Regions from separate parts of the Homo sapiens genome. Here all the other regions are linked to region 3. Evidence: fine-mapped expression QTL. A gene starts in region 3. Each other region holds a variant in brackets. All regions are shown on one strand. Distances are between the middles of the regions. Region 1 has its middle 130 kb from the start of FILNC1. Region 2 has its middle 66 kb from the start of LINC02941. Region 3 holds the start of CITED2 (Cbp/p300 interacting transactivator with Glu/Asp rich carboxy-terminal domain 2).

What was found. PIP is the estimated chance that this variant, and not a neighbour inherited with it, causes the effect. A credible set is the group of variants that fine-mapping cannot tell apart.
Region 1: its variant is the best candidate, but not a certain one, in a credible set for the expression of CITED2 in whole blood (INTERVAL, PIP 0.85).
Region 2: its variant is the best candidate, but not a certain one, in a credible set for the expression of CITED2 in nasal epithelium (TOPMed, PIP 0.70).

What each region holds. Positions count from the first base shown.
Region 1 is chr6:139,635,597-139,643,430 of GRCh38, forward strand. No RefSeq gene overlaps it. Among named protein-coding and RNA genes, the nearest start is that of FILNC1, 130 kb to the right of the region's middle. RefSeq lists silencers at 4,489-4,656, 4,970-5,069. The variant T/C (reference allele first, on the strand shown) is at 3,072.
Region 2 is chr6:139,906,071-139,913,904 of GRCh38, forward strand. No RefSeq gene overlaps it. Among named protein-coding and RNA genes, the nearest start is that of LINC02941, 66 kb to the right of the region's middle. The variant G/T (reference allele first, on the strand shown) is at 3,700.
Region 3 is chr6:139,370,524-139,378,357 of GRCh38, forward strand. It overlaps CITED2 (Cbp/p300 interacting transactivator with Glu/Asp rich carboxy-terminal domain 2), which reads right to left and starts at 4,125. Exons shown (of 2, transcript NM_006079.5): 1 at 3,890-4,125; 2 at 1,284-3,429. The coding sequence starts at 3,421. The coding sequence ends at 2,609. RefSeq lists silencers at 2,834-2,933, 3,504-3,653, 4,114-4,493, 4,664-4,973, 6,229-6,523 and enhancers at 3,224-3,283, 3,794-3,963.

The sequences.
Region 1 (7,834 bases), 270 kb after region 3:
TTGTAATCGAAGCCATATCTGCATTAGGGAATACCTTAAATTCAGCAATGTTGTGGTTCTGGCAGATACATAGAGGTACCATCTTGATGGTGTTGAATAAGATCTGGAAGAAATCTCTGGATTATCAGACAAAGACTCTTGTTCTCTTCCTTTACTTCCTCCAAACAAATGGTGTCTCTCTCTCTTCTGAGCTGTATGGAGCTAGGGATGGGGTGACACAAGCAACCCTGTGGCCACCAGCACTGGGACTGCACTGGGTCAGATCTGAAGCTAGCAGCTAGCATAGCACTGGGTCTTGCTCCAGGCCTGCTGTAACCACTACGTGCCTACCGCCTACGTTCACTCAAGGCCCTGGGGCTCTACAGTCAACAGCTGGCAAATCCAGCCAGGCCTGTTTCCTTCCCTTTGGGGAGGCAAGTTCTCCCTGAGCCCAGGTGGGTCCGGAGGTGCTGCTCGGGTGCGAGCTACTGGAGTTAAAAATCATAGAAGTCTACCTGGTGTTCTTTTTGTTCTGCAACTGAGCTGGCACTCAAACAACAAGATGCAGTCCTCACTTTTTTCTCCCCTTTCCACAGGTAGAGGAGCCTCACCCTGTGGTCATAATCACCACAGGCCCACAGGGAGTACTGCCAGACTACTGGCAATATTCCCTTTAGGCCCAAGGATTCTTCAGTCAGCTTCTGGTGAATGCTGCCTGGTCTGGGAATCACCCTTTTGGGCAGTGGGCTCCTCTCTGGCCCAGGGCAGGTCCAGAAATGCTGTCCAAGAGCCAAGGCCTGGAAGTGGGGACTCCAAGAGCCTGCAAGTTGCTCTAACCCTCTATTGCTAAGTTGGTACCTAAGGTGCAAGACAAAGTCCCCTTACTTTTCCTTCCACGTTTCTCAAGCAGGAGACTCTTCCTGTAGCTCCCACAGCTGGGAATGTGCTGAGTGTCACACAAAGCCAGCAAGTTTCAGAGTCTCACTCAAGGCCCACAGCATACTACCTGGGAGTCACTGCTGGTTATTCAGGGCCCAAGGGCTTTTTAGTCAGTAGGTGATCTGTCCTACCAGGACTGGGTCCTTCCCTTCAAGGTAGTGGATTTCCTTCTGGCCCAGAGTGTGTCTAGAAATGTTGTCTGGGAGCTAGGGCCTGGAAGGAGGGCCTTATGGCTCAGAATGGTGTCCTATGCTACTGTGGCTGAGGTGGTATCCAAAATGCAAGACAAAGCCCTCCTTACTCTTCACTCTCCTCTCCTTAAGCAGAAGGAAGGGGTCGCTTTCATTGCTGTGAGCTACACTGCCTGGGGTTGGGAGAGAGATGGCTCAAGCACTCCCTTAGCTAGCCCAGATGATGTTTTAGTAGGTCATGTGCCCCCCAAGTCCACTGTCTGTGAGTTCAGTTTAACACTAGGACTTGCCTAGGAGTTGTAGTCCTTGTGTCCTCGACTGCCTTTCCAGTTTATTTAGAGCCCCAGGACACTTTAGCCTGTGGTGGCAAGACTTGCCAGAACTCAAGTTCTGACTTCTAGGATGAACAATTCCACTGTGGCTAGGGCTGATTTATATACACCCTAGGTGGGCGAGCATCGGTTGAGTTGAGCCCAGATTTGCTTTCTGCTGTGACAGGGCAGTACTGAATTCAATGCAATGTTTCACAGCTGCTTTACTCTCCCTTTCTTAACTGCACAGATTCTCTCTTTGTGCCATGCAGTCACTGCTGTGGGATGGGGGAGAGGTAGCATTGGTAATTCAAGACTGTCTTTCCTTCACTCTTCCAGTGTTTTTCTTCAGTCATATGAAGTTAAAATCAGCTACTATGAGTGCTCACTTGATTTTAGGATCTTATGAAGGTGCTTTTTCTGTGTGCAAAGGGATGTTTTACATGGTGGCAGGCAAGATAGCCTGTGTAAGGGCTTTATAAAACCATCAGATCTCTTGAGACTTACTCACTATCATGGAAAGAGCATAGGAAAGACCTGTTCCCATGATTGAATTATTTCCCACTGGGTTCCTCCCATGACACATGGGAATTATGGGAGCTACAATTCAAAATGAGATTTGGATGGGGACACAGCTAAACCATATCAGGGTGTGAGCCACTGTGCTTGGCCTGAGCTGGATTCTTATCTGGGGATTTGGGTCCTCTTCCAAGCTCACTCAGTTCCATGCAATGTAGGACTGAAGTCCCTATTTCTTGCTGACTTTTGGGGCTGTTCTCAGCTCCTAGAAGCCACTCACATCTTTGCCATGTTCTTCTTCCCTCTTCAGAGCCAGCAATGGAGAATTGCTCTGAAACTCTGAATTCCTTTTACTAGGAAGAACCCTGTCCATTTTAAGATCTCACTGATTATGCCAGGTTAGGTTTATGACACTATGACAAAAAATGTGACCTAATCATGGGACTGACATCCCACAGTATTTATAGGTTCTTTCCATGCTCAAGAAGAAAGGATCATATGACAATGAGGGTCTGTGGGTTATGTTAGAATTCTGTTTACCACAACACTTGGTGGATAAGGCAGAAAAATCTAAATTCTACTTGAAAGATATAAAGTGTTACATGGAGGCATCATAAGGAGACAACCTTACTCTAAGATGGTAAATGCTTAGCATATGGGAGATGCTCAATCAGTGTTTGTTAACCTGTGGCAAGTCCATATATACTGAGAACACAATAATGTATTGGACGTATAAATCAGAATGAGCTTTATTTATCAAATAAGAAAACCTGTTTGTTCCACAAATTGGACAGTTTGATTGTCAACCTTCTGTGCAGGGGAAAATGAACTCCAGAAGGAGGGGCTGGGTAGATAAAGGTAGGGCTGGGGTAGATAAAGAGCCTTCACACATTTAAGCATTTTGAGCCACTCTCAGGGGAGAAGCCAGAAGAGTTTTGGTGAAAAGCCTACTCAGGAACCACAGCAGGTAGCATGATGTCAAAGTCAAGAATACAGGATCAGACACAAGTTGCCTTCAGTGGCCCAGTGTTTTTCTTATTTGCTGAGGCGCCTGAAAGTGTATACTTACTCACATGGGTTACTAAGTTCCCATTCAATATATCACTTCCCTTGAAAGAGTCAACGCACTTCC[T/C]TGAGAAATGCTCTGATAACCTGGCAACGAATGAGATAGGCCTGCCCAGACTGGAGTTCAATACTCGTTTGTGTTGACAGTATCTTCCAGTGTCTAACAGGAGATTGAATTGTAGTCATTAAAAGTGCTTCTCTGGGGTCACCTAATAAAAACAACACCACTAGGGGGGTTTTCTGATTATGTGACTCCTTCATTTGAAGTAATTTCAGAGCTTTATGGACAGATCTGTTTACAGCTATTTCCCATTCCTGTTTCATAAATGGAAATAAGTTGCCTCTGAAGAAAACGGACTTCTCCAAGGTCTTAGTAAATCAGTTGAAGCACAGGAAAGCTAATGCAATATTCTAGTTTTAAAATTTCTAAAAAGGAGATGCCTGGGTGTGGTGGCTCATACCTGTATTCCCAGCACTTTGGGAGGCCAAGATAGGAAGACTGCTCGAGGCCAAGAGTTTTAGACCAGCTTGGTCAACATGGCAAGACTCCATTTCTATAAAAAAAATTTTAAAATTGGCTGAGTATGGTGGTGTGCATCTGTAGTCCTAGTTACTCAGGAGGCTGAGGCAGGAGGATCACTTAAGCCCAGGAGTTTGAGGCTGCAGTGGGCTACAGTTGTGGCACTGCACTCCAGCCTGGGCTACAGAGTGAGGCCTTGTCAATTTAGATAGATACTTTAAATTGATGCCTGAATTTCTAATTTTCTAATTTGGATATTCACTTTTAACATTTATTTATAAATATTTCTATTGCTCTCACAATTCTCTAGTCTTGAAATGCTTGTATCTTTTCCTAGGCTGAAAATCTGGATATTTTATAAAGCAACTTAATTATTGAAGATTCAGATAAAGTCCATTTGACCAAGCATGTGTGTTTGTAAATTTTACGTTTAAATATTTTTATTTAATTGCTAAATACAAAATTGAATTACCCGACTGAAGTGACAGTCTGATTATTTCAATGTTACGCAAGAGGAATTTTAAATTTCCTGTGAAGTTCTCGGAAAGAATGATGAAGACATTGTTACTTCTTATATAAAGTCCAGTTTTAAGTACTCCAGAGTAGATTTAGAAAGGCTTTGCCGCTGCTTATCACACTTTAGCTGTTCAAGAAGGAGTCAGAGAGGCACATAAGTAGGGAAGGATGACTTATATAACTGATGCAAATACAAGTGTAGGCCCAGCAAAATTTCAGTTCACTATGGTTGAAGCTCTAATGAAGAGTAAACAAAACTACATCTTGTTATGTAGAAGTAAAGGATGAGTGGCAGTGCGTGGTGGCTCATGCCTGTAATCCCAGCACTTTGGGAGGCCGAGGCGGGTGGATCACCTGCGGTCAGGAGTTCGAGATCAGCCTGACTAACATGGTGAAACCTGTTTCTACTAAAAATACAAAAAATTAGCCAGGCGTGGTGGTGCACGCCTGTAATCCCAGTTACTCGGGAGGCTGAGGCAGGGGAATCACTTGAACCCAGGAGGCGGAGGTTGCAGTGGGCCGAGATAGTGCCACTGCACTCCAGCTTGGGCAACAAGAGTGAAACTCTGTCTCAAAAAAAAAAAAAAAAAAAAAAGGTGAGTGTACAGAAGAACTTGGAGGTTTATGGCCTATTATCTGGTAACATAGAATCTTAGAATGGTTCAATCATTCTAATGGTGGTGGCTAATTCCCATCAGAATATCACTCTTGTAGATACTTGGAGAGGTTTGTGTCTGGTGAATTCCATCACACTTTAATATGACAGTAACAATGTCCTAAAAAAGTGACTATGATTGATGAAGATGTTGGATGTTTGTGAAATAAGCATCTAAACTATCAGTTTGAATTTTTTTAAATAACAAATTGGTATTAAACTAGAACATTTGAAGTATTTTCTTACACTTAGTAGGAAAACATAGAGCATTTTAAGATGTTGAGTTTTAAATTAGGAAACAACAGCGAAGTATCTAGAGACACAGAATACACCAAAGGAAACCCACAAACCACAGGCTAAGACATTGTTACTATGTGGACTGACCATGACAAAATACTCACTCCCTTTCCTCTCACAAGGGCTGCTTTTAGCTCGATACTAGATATTATTGACATAAAAAACTCAGAGCACTAAAAATGTATCTACTCTGTTTTCCTAGTATTTGTTTTTCTTCCTTGTCTCCTGCAATTTTATGTGAGAAATGAGAACTCAGCGTGACCCCAGTTATTAAAATCCGGAGGCTAGAATCTGGATATGGAATATCTATTGAAGCATGGCACCAAAACTTGATAGCTTTTGCTCCTTTTTGGTACTGTTGTGAGGACCAAGAGTTAATGAAAGAACAAAAATCCAATCAAGCAAGTCTCTCCTTGTTCAGAAAATTAAATGCATGTGTGAGAGAATCAATGGTCAATATCGACACTTTGGTAGACGCATTGGAACTGATTTGGCTTCGTGCCGAGCTTTTAAGGCTATTGGTGGAGGAGGGAGGAGTTTAACAACAGGAAAACAGCCAAAGAATATGAACTTCTCTTTTACCATCTTCATCATGTATCATATATAATGATTGGTGAATAACATGGGAAAGTTGCCAAAATTGCTTTGTCTCAACATTTATAGTTTCCAGGGATGGAAACTATATCCAGATATCCAGACTCAACAGGCATCTAAAATTCAGGCTCTAACTTCTCAATGTTCTAGAGAATATCTATAATGCAATTTCTGCCTATAGAAATTCTCACAAGTGGAAGATGTTTAGCATAATAGATAGACGTATGGCTTGCACCAGATGTATCCTTTGTATGGAATGCTGTTTTCCATGATTCACATATAGCTATTTCCACCTTGCTATGTAGGGCTCAGTTTATACATCATTCCCTCAGAGAGGACTCTTCTGACCACCCTACCCAATCACTCCATAACATGTTTTATTTTTATCAGAGCACTTGCCACTTCCTCCTATTTTACTTCATTTTGTTTTGTTTGCGGTCTGTCTCCCTGCCTCTCACTTGAATTTAAGGTCCATGGAAGCAGAGACTTTGTCTGTCTTGTTCATTTCTATTTCCTTGTGTCTACAACATGTGTAGCCAATATTAGGTTCATAATAGATGCCTGCGGAATGACAAGTGAGTAAATGAATGAGCAATAAAGTATAGATATATTCTACCAGTATTGAATTCTTTGTTTCCCAGGAAAAGTTATTTGGTCTTAATATTCTGCCTTTCGTATTCTTTCTGTTCACCAATGATATTAAAATGCATAGTGTTGCTAGTGTATAAGGGTTTACATGGGGGTTTTTCTACAAGGGTGGAAAGGATTCCTCTAAGAGCAAAATAAGATTATCAGAAAATTTACTTTTAAGATAAACAAATGATAGATAAAAACTGAGAAAGGAAGTTATCTAAGTAAGATAAAGTGGCTCCTAGGTTTACAAGATTTGATTGAAATGAATAAAATGTATTATCATATATCAGGGGCAAAAAATACAACTAAAAGCATTGGTCAACCATGAAAGTAGAAAAGAAGAGTTTTGGATGCAACCTTACCGGTGCCTGTCTACACATCCGAGGACCGTGCATCCTGGAAGGGTCCACCAACATACCACTCTGCTGTGGAATGGTTGCATCTGGTCATCTCAACCTCATGCAATTATCTGCTTCTTGAAGTCTCTTTGTTCTGATTTCCAGGCCACCAAGCAAACTTTGCAATGTGATTTGGCACACATTTCTCCCGCCATGAGAAATGTACCTATGAACCTGAAGTCCTTCAGTCCCAGTGATGATCATTGCCCATCACGCATAATAAATTGGCATCAGGTTTATGTGTCTATCCCATAAGCTTGGTAAATGTGAGTAGTTCCTAAAAGAGATGTGCTGACAATTCATACATCTGAGCTGGCTAGATTCCCAGCAATGTGCTGGATCCTGATAAATTCACCAGGATGAGGGATTGAAGACCTTGTAAGGGAGGCACAAGAACTGAGCCAAAAATTTTAGTTGAATTTTTGAATTAGTGTCCATCTGCTATCCATGAAACAGGTCAGTGACTTAACTGAGGGCAATATTTTGAACCTTTCTAACCTAAAGGGATGGAGGTAAGTGAAATCCAAGTCACCATCTCTATTTCTCAGCACGAGAGGTAAAGAATTTGGGACTAATTATTTGGAAATTCAGATCTCAGCCTCATTTTTTTCTTTAGAGCCTCTCCCTAGAGCAAGTCTTAACATGGTAAAAAGGAAAAAGGTGGATTTTCTTCTCTTCTTTGGGAAACCCTCCCTATGCCTAATGCCTACCCCAATGTCTAAAGCCAAGTTCCTCGGCAGGGGCTCTGCACCAGGGCTTGAGGCCCAGGAGCCCAGATGAAGCATGAAGAACCCATGGATCCAGCCTGTGATTGCCTGTGTTTGGCCGCATATAAGTAACACCGGCCTTGGTAAAAGGGTCAGCTCAGAAACTTACATGTCTTTGGCGTTGCTGATCTGCTTTCTGACTTCTTTTCATCCCTCCTGTTTTCAATGACCTTTCCTCTCAGCATTTATATTTAGAGCAAATCTCATTCACATTGAAGCTTTACTTCTCCTTAACTTCTTTTATATAAAATATTCTTTCTTTAATTGTATTATAAGAACCTGAAAGCAAGTGATAAGGAAGGGTGTCATATCTGTGTGTCTAAAATCGTACTATGGTTTGGTGTAAGTTTAAGCAAGATCCCCAGCAAGATCTGGGTGTCTTTCACCGAGACAGTAGAATGAAGCAGTTAAGAACTTTGGGCTTGGGCCGGGTGCAGTGGCTTACACCTG
Region 2 (7,834 bases), 540 kb after region 3:
CACTTAAATTGATTTTCTTATTCTTTGCTAATTCAAATTCAAACTTAATTTAGCATTTGTGTTGTTTTATGAGAATATAAAATGTCATGGGAGGCCTGATAGTTTTTAATAAGTTTATCGAATGGTACTTAGAGTCATCTTCTGCAACAGTAATATAGACCTACAACACTATTGCTGTCTTTCATGTATCAAACTTCTGTTCCTGACTATGTCTTAAGCATTAGGTTTTGACCTAGAAGCTAATTTTTGCCCAATGGCTTCTACTGCTTTGCAAGTACAGCACATTTTATATTAAAGACTCAGATGTTGCCTATTGGGTTTAGTGGGTTTCTGCCTATATTAGTCCATTCTCATGCCGCTAATAAAGACATACCCGAGACTGGGTAATTTATAAAGGAAAGAGGTTTAATTGACTCACAGTTCAGCATGGCTGGGGAGGCCTCAGGAAACTTAACACTCATGGTGGAAGGGGAAGCAAACACATCCTTCTTCACACAGTGGCAGCAAGAAGTGCTGAGCAAAAGGGGGAAAAGTTTCTTATAAAACCATCAGATCTTGTAAGAACACTCACTATCATGAGAACAGCATGGAAGAAACTGCCCCCATGATTCAATTACCCCCGACCAGGTCCCTCCCATGCCACAGTGGTGATTATGGGAGCTACAATACAAGATTAGATTTGAGTGGGGACATAGCCCAACCATATCACTGCCTACGTTTGCCCTGTCAGTTGCTTAATATCTGTGCAAATTTGTCAGCCTATTTAGATGCCCTCTGCCAATTGATTAAAAATACTTACATAGTACCTACTGTATAAAGAACTCTTCTAGATTCTGATGTAACATAAATAAATTGTTACGGTCTTCTTTTTAAAAAATAAGAACTTCAGTTACTGATGACAGTGTTAATTATATTCACTTTGAATCAGAATGCATTGTGTGCCTTAAACAGCATGGACAGTGCTGGCGTACTACACAGCTCATTACATTTTTTATTTCATTTTACCAAAGTTCTATTTCATGCAAACATCTCCAGTTATTCCTACCATTGGTATATGATCTTCATAGCCATAATTAAGTTTGTGATGTTTTGTGTGAGGTTATTTCTCAACATTGTTATTGGCATACCACTAGTATCAATACTTTGGCAAGTTAAACAACTGTGATAAGATCACAGAATATCAGAACTTGGAAGCAAAGTTAGAGTATCAAACTCCTTTGAAAGATGAGTAAACTGAGACTCAGATGTTAAGAAGCTGACCAAGATCACAAATGTGTTAGTGGCAGATAAACTAGAATCTCTTCTTTCTCTCTATTGTGATGTATCTTCTGGGTATATACACACACAACCACTGCAGATTGGGTAGTGGTTGTGCTATAGTTTGAATATTTGTTCCCCAAAACATCATGTTGAAATTTGATCCTGATATTGGAGGTGGGGGGTAATGGGAGGTGTTTTTGTCATGGGGGCAGAACCCTCAGGAATGGCTTGGTGTCATCCTCATGCTAATGAGTGAGTTCTCACTCTATTGCTTCCCATGAGGGCTGGTTGTTAAAAAGGGAGCCTGGCAACTCCCTAGCTCTCTCTCTTGCTTCTTCTCTTTCCATATGATTTCTGCACATATCAACTGTCCTTTGCTTTCTGCCATGTGTGGAAGCAGCCTGAAGCTTTCACCAAATGCCCAGTCTTTCGGCCAGCAGAATTGTAAGCCAAATAAACCTTTTTTCTTTATTAATTATCCAGCCTCAGTTATTCCTTTATAGCAACACTAAACAGACTAAGACAGGTTGGTTATATGATCTCAGAATAAATTTGCTTTCAGTGACATTTAGTTCTTAAGAAGATAATTATCTTTTAAGTAAGACATACAACAAAGGGCTCAAGTGAGCATCAATAGATGAAAATGTAGTAGACAAAAAAGTCTAGTAGAAGAAACAAAAATAAAAGATAGAAAAACATTTCTAAATAAACATGTTTATCACTATATCAAGTGAAGATTTCATTTATGACTTAATACTATAATCTGACCTTTACAATTTTCTGTTGTTTATTTGTTTTAAAAATATGCTTTGGATTTATTTTCAATACTTAAAAAATATTATCAAGGTCCGTAGTGGAATTACAACTTGTTACAGATAATTGTTGCTCTTTAATTCTACATCCTATGGGATTAATTTTGTAATTCAATTCTCAAATAGCATACACTTAGTAATAGCTATTTTTCTAATAATTTCAGTATCATAGGAATATGTGCTTTATTAAGAAGGATCTAAATATACAACTTTAAAATACCCCAAAACTTTTTAAAATAAGATAAATTCCCTCTAAATATTGTGACTGAAAACTTCATTGAAGTGTCCTTAGGTTGCTGATAACACAAAGACTGCTCACTACCAACTGTGAGCTTTTGCTTAAAAATTTCCACACGTGGATTTGCATCTTTCTAGGTTGCAAAAAAATACTATTTCTCCCATAAGGAAACAGTGAAATAGAGGGAGTAAATGTATGTAAAGAGAAACACCAATTGAACCAAAATGTACTGCATTAGTTTTCAATGTCAATTACTAGACATCTGAGAAAAAGTATCAATATTTGTAATATTTAACAAATCTATAGTAATATGTAGACGGTAATAAAGCAGTGTTATACTTTAAAAGATATTTACAAAGGTCCATGTTAATATATTATCGTGGAGAACTGGAAAGAGTGAAAATAGTAAAAAAAAAGCTGTGTTAAATACTCTCATATTGATTCTCTACTCATTATTAAATAGTTCTGCTTTTAATAATCTGTTTACATCGTGTCACTTAAAACAAACATAAATCTCCAATCCTGCTGAGAAAGTTTTGTTCAGCAATCTACTTTAACAAGAAGGACACTTTGGATTGGGCCAAGTGAACAGGACTTTTGTTGTTTAAATCAGAGAAATGTTTATTTTTATCATTTTATTTTCTGCCACATAAAGTATAATGGGACATACCATAAATGTTGATAGTTTTGCCTCTAATTTTTAGTTGTTAACACATTTACACTGATTTTAAAATTTGATTCCAACCATAGTTTATTTTTGCAGCCATTATGACTATGTCTACAAAATTAGGTTCAAGTTTTTACCAAATTTTGCTGGTTTATGCTTTAAATTAAAATCCATCTTTACTAAATTTTGTTCAGGTCTCGTGTATATTGTTGGGGACTTCTTTGAAAGAACCACCTACATGGCATTTCCAAATAATTTATTCACTAAGGATCTGTTACTTTTTTTTTTTTTTATTTTAGATGGAGTCTTTCTCTGTCACCCAGGCTGGAGTGCAGTGGCTTGATCTTGGCTCACTGCAAGCTCTGCCTCCCGGGTTCACACCATTCTCCTGCCTCAGCCTCCCAAGTAGCTGGGACTACAGGCACCCGCCACCACGCCAGGCTAATTTTTTCTATTTTTAGTAGAGACGGGGTTTCACCGTGTTAGCCAGGATGGTCTCGATCTCCTGACCTCGTGATCCGCCCGCCTTGGCCTCCCAAAGTGCTGGGATTACAGGCTTGAGCCCCCACACCTGGCCAGGATCTGTTACCTTTTATACATTTCCCAGGAAAATCCATAGTAGAACAAGAATAGGCTTATTTATTCGACTAACTTCAGACTATAAATAATACTTTCTATGAATTAATCTATCATTTTAAATAGGTTTCCATAGGATGTTTCTA[G/T]AGTAATGTTCCTACAGTAGGTGTATTAATAACTAAACTTATTTGGTCTTTTATTTCATGTATACATTGTTCCTCTTACCTAAATTATGTAAGTTTAGCTACAAACCAGCAATTTGATAGAATCCCGTGATTCTTTGAATTCATGTTTGTTTCTCATGTTGATATCATTTACGTACTTAGCTTTGTTAATCTTCAAAGTCATTCACTGCTCAATGAGAACAAGCATTTTCAAACTCTACTGGAATATTTCATGGTAAGCATGTCTCCTCTTTCCTCATTTATTTACATAAAGATCAAGATAAATCAGGATATGATTATAGGTGGTGTGATTCATCAGCTGCCAATCAAAAGCTGACATAAAACCTTTGGCAGAAAGATTGAAAAAACTATTTGGAAAACAACATGATCCTAAAGAAGTGTTCTGAAGAGTGGTGATGTCACTGGTCTGTAAACTCTAATGAACTTCTTATTCAAATATCTATTCCTCTTGGTTAGATACATTCACCTTATTTTTCTTGTCCAGTGGCTTAATCAACTCTATGCTGTTTAAGTGTGATGATTTGTCTTTTGTAAACCTATGAACTAGAATGACTCACATATTTTTTCATTTTCACTTATGAAACTAAGAATTAAATCAATATTCATCTCATAAACACTTGCCAGCTATCTATTATGTGCTTCATGCATTGGTAAGAATTACTATTACTGTAAGTATTATAATTCTTTCATATCTTCCTTAAGATATACAGTTATCTCAGAACTTCACACTTAATATAGTATTTTTCTAATCACTGAATTGATTCAAAATTGAATAAAATCTTTTCCTATAGATTAACAATATATAATATATAGAAAAATGTAAAATATTTATCAGAATAACAGAAAAGCTATTATTTATCAAAGTATAGTTTTTCCCTGTAATATTTTCATTTTGAATATTTTTTTCCCTGAAAAGGTAAAACCTCACAATCTTGATTTCTAACCTGACTGTAGTACAATGATAGGTGACTGTCCCATTCTTTACTGCTCACCTTTCATTTGTTAACTTGTAGTCTCAAAGTTTTCTCTTGATACCTGTTCTTTTGCCAGGATCCAGTGGTTTGGGAGTTTGGACTATAGCAAGATTCACAGATTTGAGCACAACTCTAAATGAGGGCAAACAGGAACGCTACTCCCAAAAACAAAAAAGTCCACTTAAACAAGCTAACTAACCAACTAACTAACTAATTAACCAATATAGGCATTTTAGTAACCTTTCCAAAAAGCAGCAGAACTAAGTATCTATTTTCCTAGTAGAGTATATTTGTCTTCTAGATCAGGGTGCCCATCTTTGTCCCAACAATTCTGTAATGCTATAACAGAATACCACAGACTGGGTAATTTTTAAAGCAAAGAAATTGACTCCTCACCGTTCTAGGGGCTGGGAAATCCAAGACGAAAGTGCTGGGATCTGGTAAAGGCCTCCTTGCTGTGTCATCCAGTGGCAGGAGAGCTCAAGAAAACAAGACCAAGATCAAATGAGGAAAGCGACCAAATTCATCCTTTTATCAGAAACCTAGTATCAAGATCCCTAACCTACTCCCACAATAGCATTAATCAATTCATAAGGCAGAGCCCTCATGACCTAGTCACCTCTTAATGGTCCCATCTCTCAGCAGTGTTGCATCGGGGATTAAGCTTCGAAAGCATGAACTTTGTGGGGACTCATTCAAATCATAACAGTACCATAACCTAATTTACCTGGAAATGACATGTACTGGAGAAAAGCAGACATTCGTTGGCCTTGGATGGTTTGAGTCAGTAAATTATTAAATAACCTTTTTTTTTTGTTTCTGAAACTTTAATGAAGATCTAAATAAAAATGAAAATTATTGCAGCCAAAAGAAGAAATAAAATGATTGAAAAATAGTTCTGTCTAATGAGCTTGACCCTTATGAGTGCTCAGATCAACTCTTCCCCTCTCCCACACTTATGCAGGGAGCTCTCAGATCAGGCTGCCCCCTCTTTCTCTCAGGTGCTCCCCTGGAAACCTGGAGACTTCTAAGGAAGTTAGACCTGTTAGAACAGGGGTGTCCAATCTTTTGGCTTTCCTGGGCCACATTGGAAGAAGAATTGTCTTAGGCCACACATAAAATACGCTAACACTAACGATAGATGATGAGCTAAAAAAAATTGCAAACAAATATCATGTTTTAAGAAAGTTTATGAATTTGTGTTGGGCCACATTCAAAGCCATCCTGGGATGCATGTGGCTATGCGTTGGACAAGCTTGTGTTAGAAGATCAAGTGAGGGAAAATCAACTGAGACATCTCTTCTTCAAGATTCTAGAAACTTTTAAGTTTTGCCACTAATTTAAACACTTGGTAAAGGCAACACTGTATATTTTTCTTCCCGGTGCCTAGTAGATTATGTGTATTTAGATATTTACTAATCCAAATTATATTGAAAAAATGTTTTTTATGTTGAAAGGAGACACTAGTAAATTTTTTTCCTAAAACACTAGGTACATAGCTAACTATTTCTTCCTGAACATAGATTTTTGATGTAAAGAATGAGAAAATAATGATTTTCATGTTTCTGTTTTTCACATATGCTAAAAGAACTGACTACTCATGAAGTTATAATGGAAGAGTATGTGGAGATACACCTTGTGTGTTTCACTTACTGCTGTAACTGAAACAATGAAAAAAATTTTCCCATAATGGATATTAATCTATTCTAAGCCAAAAGGCAACACATTCCCAAAATGTTTCTGTCTAAAATATTTTTATTTTAGGTTTGCCACAAGAATTACCATTTCCTTTCACTTGACATAAAATAAAGCCACTATCAAGAGTATTACTTTACTTAATATTTTTACAACGACATTTGGACATTGTCTTAACATAATCAGTGTTAAAGCAGCCAGGAGAAGAGCTGTTTAGAAGACTCTTCCAGTTCAGTTTCTATATTGAAATATGAAGTGTTAATTTTGAGGTATGAAAGCAGGGTCCCAGAGCCTTTGAAGATCTGTTATGGAAATGGTCTAGAGAAGGGTTCAACAATTTGTGGTCCTCAGGCTAGCTGCTCGTATTTTGTAAGTACATTTTTATCAGAAAACAGTCATGTTCATTTGTTTACTTACTAGGTATGGCTGTTTTCCAGCTACAAAGGCAGAGTTGAGCAGTTGTGACAGAGGTCATTGGGTCTGGAAGCTTCAATGATTTACTATTTACTGTTAAGGTAAATTTTAAGAAAAGCTTCCCTAGCCCCTAGTTTAGAGAAGGACTGTCCCATAAATAGATATGATAGGGAGGCCGAGGCGGGTGGATCACAAGGTCAGGAGATAGAGACCATCCTGGCTAACATGGTGAAACCCTGTCTCCACTAAAAAATACAAAAAATTAGCCTGGCGTCGTGGCAGTCGCCTGTAGTCCCAGCTACTCAGGAGGTTGAGGCAGGACATGAACCCGGGAGGCGGAGCTTGCAGTGAGCCGAAATCGTGCTACTGCACTCCAGCCTGGGCCACAGAGCAAGACTCCATCTCAAAAAAAAAAAAAAAGATATGATGATGGAAATATTTTGTATCTATGCTGATATGGTACCCACTAGCCACATGTGAATATTAAGTACTTGAAATATGACTACTATGAATGAGGAATTAAATTTTCATCTTGTCTCATTGTAATTAATTAACATTAAAATTTAAATAGCCACATGTGGCTATTGGCTACTGTATTAGCACAGACATGGAACAACTTCATTGAAGTCCACTGAGCAGTGCTTCCCTAGATCCACAGTCAGGAAACTGTTTCTTAAAGGGCCACATAACAAATAGCGTGACTTAGAGCATTTGAAATGTGGCTAATGAAAATGAGACACTGAAGTTTTAATTTTTTTTTACTGTAATAAATCAAAATTTAAAAGCCACATGTGGCTAGTGGCTGCTGTAGCCGAGCGAGTGGGCTAGAGCAGGGATTCCCATGGTGTGGTACACAGATCAGTGGCATCAACATTAACTGGGAACTTGCAAGAAATGAAAACCCTTGATTCTCACAGCATATCTACTGAATTAGAATCTCTGGGGATGGGGCTCAGGAATCTTATCTAACAAGTACTCAAGGGCAGTGTCTCTCCAAATTTAGCATGCATCAC
Region 3 (7,834 bases):
ATAATAGTTCCTTGGGCTCTGCATCTCCACATACGTGTTCCGGCGTTTGAGCAGCAGGAGGAATTTAGTGACAGAGCAGGTGTTGTGGCTTATTCCCTGGCAGAATAAATGGTGAAGGGTGGTGGCAAGACAATTCTTTGGCTTCTTTATGCAAAAAAAAAAAAAAAAATGCATTTAATCACTTTCCTTTTTTCCTGGCACTAGTGAAAAAGGATTGGAGTTGCTGTATTAATATGTATGCAAACATATTTTTTCACTTAAGCCTCTGGAAAAAAAAAAGAGAGAGAGAGAAAGAAAAACTTACTGTGAAAATGCTTAGCCAGAAAGATTCATTGCTGATTGCAGATTTAGTATTGACATGTCTTAGCTGAAGAAAACTTCAGCTTTAACTATTAATGTGGAAATCTGGATCAGCTTTTAAAGTAGGGTAAAAAGAGTTTTGGATGATTCAGTATATTTATTTGAACATAATTTTAAAGAAGAAAGTGTCAATTATAGAGGTATATAAAAAACCCAGTGGAGTGTGTGCATTTTAATTTTACATGGCCTACCTTGGAAATAAAATTATAAAATGCAGGTGATCTGAATTATACTTAAAGCAGCCTTTATGCCCAACTTACTCTCTCATAACACTTCTAAATATCCGCTCCTCCTGATTTCTTATAAAATATGGAATTTAAGATGAGAATCGGAGTCTAAATGAAATGTTCTTTTAAAGCATTATTTATAAGATTTTCCTCAACCTACATTTTTTACTTCCCCTAGTAAGTTGCGTACAAAAGTCTGTATTTTTTCTTGAAGGTAGGTGTGTTGCTCTTATAAACATAAGATAAGCCATGAAAACATGAAAAACAAAATTCCTTCTCCTTCCACCTGGGATAATTTGAGATTTTCACAATATTACTTTTTCCTTTGCTTGATTATATAAGGCAAAACTTGATACCCACTTAGTTGTAGCTATGGTCTTCTTGATAAGACATCTATCCAGGTAAAATTAAAGTATAATTTTCAGGTGATTTGCATCCCATGCATGCAACAGGAAAACTCAGAATTCAGGAAAACAGGGCATGCTTAAGAGGGAACATCTTGTAAAGACTGTAATTTGACCTTTGAGTCAACCTGAGTACATTTTAAATATTATAGGACAAAAGCCTCAAAGTGGAATTCTGCCTCATCTTTCTCAGAACTATAAACCAGTCAGACACTGTTTCAGAGATTACGCTAGAAAATATGTACCTATCCTTGGCACTTTTGCTGAGAAATAAAACTCTCATCACTGGAGATAAAGGTAGATTTATATTTAATGCCACCCATCAATCAATCAGTGTATTATTCCAATCTACCTCTATTTAAGTAGTTGAATCAGGTATAAACAGAAACACTTGATTTTTTTTGCCTCCTGCCCATTGAAAAAGATAATGTTGAGTATTGCAAACCTTTCTAACTCTGGAGTACACTTGATATGATGGCAATTAAGAAAAAAAAAAAAGCAGTGACAACTTTGCAGCTTTTGATTAAAGCACACCAAGAGGCATGTTACAATGATAACAATGAAGCATTATGCCAATTATGTTAAATCCTGCTCTCCGCTTAAGCTCATCATGACCTGTTTTAGTGTCCTGTAATTTATCCTTTGGAATGCTTACTCTCATCAATAGTGTTCAACTCAAAGACGGGGGGAAAAAAGCCACCAAAGGGAACAACCACCCCCAAATGACTTCTAGAAAACAAGTTATTTCTTAACTTTTTATTGACATTGGCAAATTAAAATAGAATAAATTAACAAGTATTTTTTCAAAAAAATGTTTTGTACAAAAATACTGTCAAAATTTCCTAAAAAGCTTTCAACACAGTAGTATCTTTTCATGTACTGAATATAACTATTAGCACAGTGTCAAAAATGTTGAAGACAGAAACAAAATAAAAATCTGTGAAATGTTTGCCACTGACGACATTCCACACCCTATTATCATCTGTACATATGGGGGTGGGGGGGGCGGCGGGGGGGACAGCCAACTTGAAAGTGAACAGTATGACTTTCCTGATCCAGAACAGTTTGGCCCACATCTGTTTAATCTTCCAGTTTAGCATATTTTAAAAATTAGTCTGTACTCAAATGCATAGTTAAAAAAATGAAGCGAGATGGCAGTTTGTGCAGTAATATCTGCCCTTCGAAGTTCATGCAACCAACTAATGCAATTTTTCCTTTCACTCGTAAATCTGAATGCAGTTCAGTCATTTGAAACCATCTACAAAATCCACAAGATTAAGCAGTTTGCCAAGATTAATATCTAACAGTTGAGCACTGGAGAAAGTGAGGGAAAGGAGTAAAAACAAACAACGAAAAAGACCAAGTTAGCTAGATATTTCAACTACATAAGGGAGGTGGGTGAATGTCAAGGCTACAAAAACGAAACAAAAACAGGAAAAAAAAGTGGCAGCAATTTTTTTTAAAACCAATTTGTACAAGTTTATAGTTTACTTTGTTTCCAAGTTCTCAAACCTTTCAAGATCTGAAAAGTGAGATACTGTGTCTAAGGGAATGTTTCTTTTAATTCACGCCGAAGAAGTTGGGGGTTTGATTTCTTTCGCCGGGGTTTCGATCGAGTCAACAGCTCACTCTGCTGGGCTGCTGTTTGCACACGAAGTCCGTCATAAAATCAAACTCGTTTTGCCCCAGCCAGAGTTCGGGCAGCTCCTTGATGCGGTCCAAACCCATTTCTATCACCAAGGACATAAGAACTTCCTCGTCGATGAAATCAGTGTCTATGACATTGGGCGGCAGCATTGCAGCGGGGACGTGGGCCACGGAGGCGGGCATGTTGCCGCTGCCGCTGCCGCCGCCGCTGTTGCTGCTGCCCGCGCCGCCGCCCGAGCTGCTGCCAGAGCCGCCGGGGGTGCTGCTGCCGCCCGAGCCGCCGGGGGTGCTGCTGCCGCCGCTGTGCTTGGGGTTGCAATCTCGGAAGTGCTGGTTTGTCCCGTTCATCTGGTGGCCTGCAGCAGGGTGCAAATCCGGCATGTAGTGGTTGTGGGGGTAGGGGTGATGGTTGAAATACTGGTTGTTGAGCTTCTGCAGCTGCATGCTGGCCGGCAGGGAGCCTCCCTGGCTGGCCACCGGGGGACCCATGAACTGGGAGTTGTTAAACCTGGCCGCGGGGGCCAGCGCGCTCGGGGGGTGCCCTCCGTTCACAGTCCCCGGCCCCATCGCATGCCTGATGCCGCTCGTGGCATTCATGTTGCCCGCGCCGTAGTGTATGTGCTCGCCCATTAGGGCGTTGAAGGCGTGCTGGGGCTGCTGCTGCTGGTGGTGATGGGGGCTCGGGAACTGCCCCATGCCCATGCGGTGGGCAGGGTGATGGTGCAGCCCATTGGTGCCGTCGGGGAAGCGCCCGTGGTTCATGGCCATCATATGGTCTGCCATTTCCAGTCCTGGAAGTGAAAAGGGCAGATAATGAGACCCGCGCCACACGTGTCGCCCACCACAGCGCACCCCACTTTTGCTCGCCTCTGCCCCCCAGGATTCCCGGGCGCACGTCGGCTGCGAACCACCACCCCCAAGATCCCACTAACAGCCTGTGCACCCGGGCTAGCCACCACGGAAGAGCTACCACTCATAACACAGCCGGACGCTGCACAAACAGCCCCTTCCCCTGCGATCGGGCGGGGGGACCCGAGCCCACACCCCCTTTGCTCCCCGAAGTGGCCTAATAAAGGAAGTGCCCCGTAGCCCTGCTGCGAACTTCAGGCATTAAATCAGCCCTCCTCATCCTGTTGTTGCACATCCTGTTGTTATTCCCCAGCTTCGCCTCACGCTCTTCCTCCGGGCAAACCCTGCCCTCGGAGGACTGGGCTGGCAAGAGCCCCAGCCAGCTTCGCCCGTCGCGCTTACCTTCCGTTTTTGCGATTTCTGCTCCGAAGACCGAGGGCGGGCTCGTCGCGTCCAGGACCGGCTCAGCAGCACATAGAGGGGACCTTCCTGGCGTGCAAAGCGCTTCGCTGTCGCGATGTCGGCGCCGAGGTCTCGCAGCGGCCGCTGGGGCAGATTCGGAGCCGTTCCCTTTTATTTCCCCTCCGTTGCCCTCACAGCTCGGCAGGACCGCCCGGCAGCTGCCAACAATGAGCTGTGTTTCTTAGGGCTTTGGCCACAGTTAATATAGGCATTTCGGAAAGGCGGAGCGAGAGCCTCCAGGGCGGGCGGCGCCAAGACGCGGATTCCGGAACACCGCGAACACCCTGGACCGGGTCCCGGAGCCGCGTCCCCGCCGCCCGCGGCACGTGCTGCAGAGGCTGCGGGGCCCGGGGGCCGCCCAGTCGCCCCGTCGCCCCCCGACTCTGGTTTCTTCCCGGCCCAGAAACGCGAGGTTGGCTCAGCCACCCCCGAGGCAGGGGGAAAATCCTCCCCTGCCGCCCCGCCCGAAGGTAGAGCCTGCCGGGATAGCCACGAGGAGAGCTCACCGCCCCCCTCAGGCTGGATCTACCCCACCCCCAGCTTTCTCACTCGGTTCACCTAGCGATCTGCCCCGCTCTCTACGGGAAAAGGGGACTCGCCCAGCGCCCCCCGCCCTCCAGAGTGCCCTTGTGCCTCCCCGGTTTTGCAAAAGCTTCCACAGGCAGCGAAGAATGGCTGTGCTTCCTCGAGTTGGGTTTTAAAGACCCGGACAAATAATGCGCCCTTTCCTGAGCGCGCCTTCCTAGGCTGTGCCTTTGTGTTTTCATACGGGCAGTGGGTAGACCTACTCTAGATCACCGCTTGTAGATGCATTTTTTTCCTCCACTCCTTTCAAGGACAGGAGCTGGGGGCGGGGAGGGGCAGCCGCTGCAGGTGGACGGAGCGCGCTCGAGGGCCCGGCCACCCCCGCTCCCGCGCCCTGGAATTCCAGTCCGCGCTTTCGGGCCCGCCTGCCGCTCCCGGGGTACGTGTGCTTCTGCTAAGTTTGCGTTTGCAGCTCTTGGTAGCTTTGGCATCCGAGCTGAGGCGTCTCTGCTCTGTAAACAAACTCAGCGATCCTCGTCCCCAGATCCACCTTTTTGCACATACACAGTTACTTGCTTCTGCTGTTGCCCTGGATCCGGGAGGTGGGGGTGTGTACAAACTTGCAGAGCCTCCCTCCGGGCTCTGCCTGACGGTTTGGGGTTGATTTAGAAGCAAACGGGTTTGTAATTAAGAAATTTGAGGGCTGAGTAAGGCTGCTCTTGCTGGAAAAGGAAAACAAATAGATAACGTGGTAATCGCTTTGTAAATAAAGTCGTTCTGGAGGTGGGCACGTAGCTGCACGTCCCGTATGGCACCACGCGCACACACACGGCTGGGACTCTTCCTTTTCAGTGAAATTGTTCAGTGGGGCAATGGGCGATAATAATAACCTTGCTTCCACAACGCGGCACAACGAGCCTGGTCGCCCGTTTGGTTCATTGACTTGCAAATAAAACCCCTAACACAGGTCTGGGCTACTACCAAGTCGGAGCTCTCTGGCTTTCTCACATGGGGAAGCCGAGTTGTTTCCCCAACACCATGATGGGGCTGTTCTGAGCTTTTACATTGCTCTTTATGTGGTAAAATCGAGTTTAGCGCTCCGAATAAGGACTTCTGGGCAGTTGTTTCTTCATAACTCGATAGCCATTGAAGACTTCCTGCTGCGAAGAGCGAGTCCGCCTCCCCGCCCCCCCCTCGTCTTTTTCCCCCTTCTTGCACACAAGACTTTTAAAGGCCCTGTTTCTTGAGGACTGGAAATTCTGATACATTTCCCCGTTCAGGAATTTGCAAAAGAGACCCAATCCTGATTATTTTCGTCTATGACCCCTCTGTCTTTTCCTAGTCAGGCATATTTTTGTAAATGTTGTTACTTTGTGTCTTGTCTTCTTTCCTCTTCCAGGCTCTCCGGCAAACCGTGCAGGCAAATAATTTTTAAACCTCAAAAATATTTACTTTTTAGAGATACGGGCACATGACACATTGCATTGTTAGTTGCAACAATTCCCTATTCTCCTAACCTCCCACCACCTTTACCTGTAGGTCAGGACATGCAGTTTACCGTATCAGAGGCTTGGATACCTGAAGGGGCCACTTCCTATAAAAAAACAGATTCTAAAATATTGGTAAAACCCAACCTGAAAAATCGCGGGATTGTTTACTTTCCCTTCTTTGTACTGCAAGTGTCTTTCGACACAAGAAACAGCTTTTGAATGTCTAATCTAAATTCCTCTTGCAACCACTAAGGAAAGGTGGAGCTCCATCCAGCTCCAGTGGTTCTACCTACTATTGGGAAATCCCTGGAAAGGTCACCTGCCCATCCCCCATCCCTTAAAGGAGAACAAAATAGTTCTGGGACCAGCTGGTTGGAACATGGCATGCTTTGTTCATTTATTCTCATCCGTCCACTGAATGTCCTCCAAGTGCCAAGTGCTTTCTTGGTGCCTGGAGATACAAACAAGATAGGAACTCATGGTCACAGGGAGAAAACTGACAAACAGGCCTTGAACACACTGTGATAAATGCCACAAAGGCATTGAAGGAAAGGGCTTTGGAGAGCACATAGGAGGGACACCTACCCCCCTCCTGGGTGCTTTGGGAAGGCTTTCCGGTGGAGATGGTGACTAAGTGGAGGCCTCAGGATGAATGGAAGTTTGGTCCCATTAGGAGTGGGGTAGAAAATGTATGGCTAGGGAGTGAATGCAAAGATGAGAGAAATAAGGTTGGAGAAATATGCTGGGGCCGGATGCCAAGGGCATTGTGGCCTCAAGCTGAGAAATTTTGCTGTATCCCAAAGACATTGGGAGGCAGGTAAAAGCTTGTGAAGCCATGAGATAGGAAAGATTTGGATTTTAGAAAGATCAGGGCAGTACTGTGGAGAATGGTTAGAGAAAGTAAGACAGGAAACAGGGAGTCCAGTTAGGGGGCACTTACAGTAACCCAGGGCTCCCAGAAGTTCCGTATAACCAGGGTTTATCCCGTGAACCTGGGTGAGCGAGCAAGTGATCTGTCTGTGGCCCTCACAGCACTGAATGGTTGTATTCATTTCCCAGAGCTGCCATAACACAGTACTATTTAGGTTGGTGCAAAAGTAATTGTGATTTTTGCCATTGAAAGCAATGGCGAAAACTGTAATTACTTTTGCACCAGTCTAATACAAACTTAAGGCTGATCAAGCTTTAAACAACAAAACATTATTGTCTCACAGTTCTGGAGGCTAGAGGTACAAGGCCAAGTTGTTGGCAGGGTTGGTTCTGAAGACCGTGAGAGAGAATCTATTCCGTGTCTCTTTCCTGGCTTTTGGTGGTTTCCCGGCAATCTTTGGTGTCCCTTGACTTGTAGATGCATCACACTGATCCCCACCTTCATCTTCATGTGACGTTTTCCACCCCCCGCCCCCCTGTATGTGTATCTCTGTGTCCAAAGTTCCCCTTTTGACAAGGACTCTAGTCCTTTTGGATTAGGGCTTCTCCTACTGGCCTCATGTTAACTTGATCACCTCTATAAGCTCCTGACTCCAAAGAAGGTCATATTCTGGAGGTTAGAACTCCAACATATCTCCAAGATATTTTTGCGGGGACACAATTTGACTAATAACAGTGGTAAATAAACTGAGTAATACAAGACCCCTGCTGCTGACAAAGAAAGTTGCCACCTGGAACTGTCTTCCCAGACGTCCTACTGGCCCATATTCTCATTTCTTCATGTCTCTGCTCAAATATCACCTCAACAAACTCTCCCTGACTGTCCTACCCAAATAGCAATATCTCTCTTGTTTCCTTGCCCTGCTTTATGTTTCATCTTAGAGTATCTTCCTACCTGACATGCTGCATGGTAAATTGACAGTTTACTGCCTTCCCCATT